Regions from separate parts of the Homo sapiens genome. Here region 1 is linked to region 2. Evidence: fine-mapped expression QTL. A gene starts in region 2. The other region holds a variant in brackets. All regions are shown on one strand. Distances are between the middles of the regions.

Evidence for each region. PIP is the estimated chance that this variant, and not a neighbour inherited with it, causes the effect.
Region 1: its variant is fine-mapped to the expression of CYB5B in sun-exposed skin (GTEx, PIP above 0.99).

What each region holds. Positions count from the first base shown.
Region 1 is chr16:69,461,558-69,464,057 of GRCh38, forward strand. It overlaps CYB5B (cytochrome b5 type B), which reads left to right. Exons shown (of 5, transcript NM_030579.3): 5 at 873-2,500. The coding sequence ends at 963. Among named protein-coding and RNA genes, the nearest start is that of CYB5B, 38 kb to the left of the region's middle. The variant TTTGA/T (reference allele first, on the strand shown) is at 1,299.
Region 2 is chr16:69,423,298-69,426,164 of GRCh38, forward strand. CYB5B (cytochrome b5 type B) reads left to right here and starts at 1,322. Exons shown (of 5, transcript NM_030579.3): 1 at 1,322-1,560. The coding sequence starts at 1,387. RefSeq lists enhancers at 605-1,152, 1,153-1,700.

The sequences.
Region 1 (2,500 bases), 38 kb after region 2:
TAAGTAGAGGGGCAGCCGGGTCATTTGGATCATGGAAGAATTATACCTTAAAACTAGTGTGCTAATAAGTTCTATTAAAGAATTATTATGTTAAGGAGAATGATGACTGTTCTGAAGCTCCTAAGGAAGGTCTCTTGCAGTACTTTTGAAGCTGCCATTTGCTTCACCCTGTTAGAACTGTATATGCTTTGTGTGTATGTGTATCCTTATTAGTGTCCAAACTTAACTAGGGATTAAGAGGATGGGTTTGGAATCAGACTGTCCAGCTGCCTTTCTAGCTTTGGGATTTGGGGTGCAAAGCTTATATTTCCCTTGTATGAGATGAGAATAATAACCCTATTTCGTAGGTTATCCTATTTCATAAGGATTAAATCTTTAAAATACATATGAAGCAGATAGGATATTTCTGGTAGTTATATTAGATATGATTACTTCCAAATTTATATTGGGATGGATATGTTTTTATACATATATGAAATGTCACATACATAATGGTGTTTTTTCCTGTTTAAAAATGTTTAATTGTAGAATACGTGAAAAGCAAAAGCACAATGAAGAAAATGTGAGAGTATCCATAATCCCTAACTCAGAAATAACCACTATATGACTTTGTAGAAACACATATAGAGGCATTTAAAGACATCTTATTTGATATCATACTATTGGTTGTTTTTAACCTTTTAAAAAATTACTTTGTAATATTGTCACTCCAATTCAAATATTTTTCCCCAACTACTTTGTGATAAAAGCAGTTAAATTTCCCAAAGTAAATAAAAACTCCTTGCCTATATAAAAACATGTGAAAGCTGAAAGATAGTGAACATTTGGCTTAAAATATTAACAACTTTATTGCTTTCTCCCCCTATTCCTAGTTGCTGGGCATATTGGATTTTACCCATCATAGGCGCTGTTCTCTTAGGTTTCCTGTACCGCTACTACACATCGGAAAGCAAATCCTCCTGAGGAGGCCTTGCTGAAGTTAGAAAGTGCATCCACTTTGGGGCGAAAACTAGAGACTTGCTTGGGGGCTGCAGAAGTGCCCTCTCCTCGAATCCTGCCAGTTGCATTCTTCCCCCTTGGAGCCAAGACGATTGGCCAGACATCACCTCAGATCTGAGACCAGCGTCTTCCATCTCTCAGAGCCTTACTCCCAAAGTACCTGCTCACTGTTCCGTGTTGAACAATTGCCGGTGTTTCCTCTCTTCACTGGTTTCCATGAGTACCCTTATATTTCACAACTTTCTGTTCATAAGTTATAGTGACATTGCTCTTTGGTAAAAATGCCTGCTTTCCAATAC[TTTGA/T]TTGCATATTAGACATTCTTAACAGGGCGGCAGTCTAGTGTTGAAAGTTTTATTTTTCCATTTTTCTTTTAAGTAAATTTTTTTTAAAAAATTCTGATTTAGGGCTAGGTGTGGTGGCTCAGGCCTGTAATCCTGGCACTTTGGGAGGCCAAGGTGGGAAGATCGCTTGAGGCCAAGAGTTCAAGACCAGCCTGGGCAACATAGCGAGACCCCTATCTGTATTAAAAAAAAATCTGATTTAATTCTTTTATTTATCATAAGGGGTTTAATTCCTGAAGTAAAGGTTTGCACCTATTAAACTTAAAACTGCCAAATGATTTTTGTTCTTTTATGTGCGTGATAAAAATACAAAGAATGGTGTGGCCACCTCCTCCCTTTCAAGCTAGGGCAGCAGGTAGCTCTTCCCAGCCCCTGAGCCCAGCCCCTTCCCAAGTGGTGCCGGACAAAAAACTACATGGCCCTTTCGTGTCTTGGGGGTGGAAAGGTAGGGATGAATTGGGGTGATAGAACCCTGGTGAATTCAGAGTAATCTTTCTTTAGAAAACTGGTGTTTTCTAAAGAAACAGGATAGGAGTTTAGAGAAGGCACCAAAGCTTTCACTTTGGTTTGGCACCAGTTTCTAACCATCTGTTTTTTCTACCCTAGCTATCTTTTATTGGTAAAATATAAATGTATAATTATGTTTGTAGAGCTTTACCAAGGAGTTTCCCTCCTTTTTTGTTTGTTGATTAGCAAATTTTTGATTCTCCATTTTCCAAAAGTAAGAGACTCCAGCATGGCCTTCTGTTTGCCCCGCAGTAAAGTAACTTCCATATAAAATGGTATTTGAAAGTGAGAGTTCATGACAACAGACCGTTTTCCATTTCATCTGTATTTTATCTCCGTGACTCCAACTTGTGGGTTTGTTCTGTTTTTCCATGAGAATAAAATACTGGCGGTTTTTTTCTCAGATGTGTGTTCATTGAGAAGTAGGTTACTAGAATTATGTTACTGTGTCTTATTGGTTCAATGATGATTTCTCTGGCATATTAGACTTTTATTTTTTCCCCCATGGAAGCACTTGAGGAAATAAATAGTACACTGGCTGTTTTCTGCCAGCAACTGTGGTGATTTTTCTCCCTGTCCTTTGAGAATTGCTAGTCTGCTTCTGAGCCATTGTCATATCCAGCAGGGAGCAGCTTGGTTCAAGAAGGACCAT
Region 2 (2,867 bases):
AGGTTTCAGAGTCGGGGCGGGTGCAACAGGCTTATAAAGGGAATGGTGGAAAATATTATACGTTAGTGAAAGAGGTTGCGAATGGATTGTGGAGAGCCCTGAATGGTAGACTGCGAGAGTGACAGGATGAAAACGACGACATCATAGGAAGAGCAATCTGTCAGTTGTAATGGCAGTTAAAAAGTGGCGCACAACACTGTACCTTAACCAAACTTGGAATTCCAAAGTGCTGGGACCTCTAGCGGAGAGCAGTTGAGTTCAATTCTATTTTAGATCACGTAGAGACTAAAATAGTGCCGATTGATCCTGATCATCACAGAATTCGTTTGAAAATCGGATTCTGAATGATGGTAGAAACATAGGATACTCCACATTCTACCCCCAATTGCTGTCCGGGACAGCAATTGCCTTTCTAATCGACTGCCATGTTTAGCGATTACTATGCGCCAAGCGCTTTACAGGCACTCTCATTAAAATAGGCAAACCGGGCCAGGCGCGGTGGCTCACGCCTGTAATCCCAGCACTTTGGGAGGCCTACGCAGGCGGATCACCTGAGGTCAGGAGTTCGAGACCAGCCTGGCCAACATGGTGAAACCTACTCTCTACTAAAAATACAAAAATTAGCCGGGCGTGGTGGCGCATGCCTGTAGTTCCAGCTAGTCGAGAGGCTGAGGTAGGAGAATCGCTTGAACCTGGGAGGCGGAGTTTGCAGTAAGCCGAGATCGTGCCACTGCACTCTGGCCTAGGAGACAGAGCGAGAACTTGTCTCAAAAAAAAAAAAAAAAAAAAAAAAGGCAAACCCCTCTGTAAGAGAGTGCTTTATCAAGCCCATTTTACTGATGGGGAAATTGAGGAGAGACGGGATTGGCCAGATCACGACCTGGAGGCAGCAAAGATGTAAAATCAGGGTTGGGATACAGGCTGCGCCGGTAGTGTAGGGGATAGGAACTTTCTGAGACTCAGGAGAAAGCCACAGCGATGGGAAGGGAAGCAGAACACTGGAGACCCTAAAGGCCCACAGGCTGAGAGAAGTGGTACCTCTCCTGAAGTGACACCTGTCAGCACGCCTCTTTTGGGCGCCAGTCCAAAAATCGCGGTATCTGATTGGCGAGGTTGGAGGGGGCTGAACGACCCTAATTGGTTAGTTGGACCTCGAACCAGACTTTCATCTGGAGGATCGGGCGAGGAGTGGGCGGGATTTCGAACTGAGCCACTCCCTTCATTGGTGAAAAGAAAACGAACCAGGAACTATTCGGAAGTGTGATTGGCTGTTGCTAGGAACCGTCTCAAGGCCTTATGGGCCCTGGTTACGGAAGCCGAGGAAGGCTGAGCGCGGGCTCTCAAGGAAAGTAGTCGCGGAATCTCAGTTAGCGGTGGAGAGGCAGTATGTCCGGTTCAATGGCGACTGCGGAAGCTAGCGGCAGCGATGGGAAAGGGCAGGAAGTCGAGACCTCAGTCACCTATTACCGGTTGGAGGAGGTGGCAAAGCGCAACTCCTTGAAGGAACTGTGGCTTGTGATCCATGGGCGAGTCTACGATGTCACCCGCTTCCTCAACGAGGTGGGGCCTGGGAGGTGGGAGGCCTCTGAAGCTGCTGGGGCGAGGGGTGAAAAGGCTGTGTGGAGTGTATGTGGGAAGGAAGGGAGGCTTGGCTGGGGGCGATAAGGCGTAAGAAAGGGATCACGACCCTCAGAGGGAAACTGGGGTGGGATTGGGGGAGGGCTTTAGTTTGCATGCATTTCCAGTCAGCTCCGAGTTCTGGTGCCTTATGTAATATCATGTATTACTTATGTGTCGAGCATTTGCTGTGTGCTCAGCTAAACTCTAAGCCATCATTATCTTTATTTTACAGAAAGGGAAACTGAGGCTCACAGGTTGAGGACTCTCAGGGCCATAGAGTTAGCAGCTTAGATCCGTTGAACCTAGGTCTGAAGTGCACCCACATCTGTGCTTTTCCAGTGTGCCTTCTGAAGTAATACCGGTTTTGGTTTTCGTCTTCTAGAGTAGAAGCTGAGATTTCTCTCCACACGCTTCCCCATCTTGATTATGCCTCCACTGTTTTTTTTTCCCCCTAATCTGAGTTGACCTTGAGGCCAGAAACTCATAAATCAACCCTTTTTTTTTGTTTTTGACTCATGTTTTGTCATTTTTCTTAAATATTCAAGACTGTTTTATTTAATCTTCAAGTCTGTTGCATTACATCTCATTTTAAAAATTATTTTTGAGACCATGGTGCAACTAATTTTTTTTTTAAGGAAACAGGATAGACTTCTAAATATTTAAAACTTTATTGAGGTGTAATGTACATACGTAAATTGTGCCTATCTAAAATGTACATTTTGATGAGTTTTGAAAAATGTATTCATCCATGTTAAGACATAAACCATTTCCATCATTCTAAAAAGCTTCCTTTCCCTTTGCAGTCATTCTCTCCCAACCCCAGGCAACTAGTGATATGCAGCCGCTAAAGATTGGTTTGAAGCTTTGATTTTCGGTGTGTGTATGTTTGAAGCTTTGATTTTCGGTTTGTGTGTGATCATTTTATTTTGAGCAATAGATTAATGACTTGTGAAAGTTCACTTCTATTTCTCTGAAGCAAATATACTAGTGAAATATTTTTTCGATTAATTTGGGGCCTAAAAGAGAAATCTCTGCATCCTGACTTTTAATTCTAAAAACTTTTAAAATTTAAAAGTTTCCCCCAAAGAACATTATTTTTAATAAATCTTAATAGTGAACAATAATTTAACAAACTCAGAATTTACTAACTTCTTGCATTTGTATGGTGTATGGCATTTTATGCTTTTAAAAGTGCTTTCCGGTCGGGCGCGGTGGCTCACGCCTGTAATCCCAGCACTTTGAGAGGC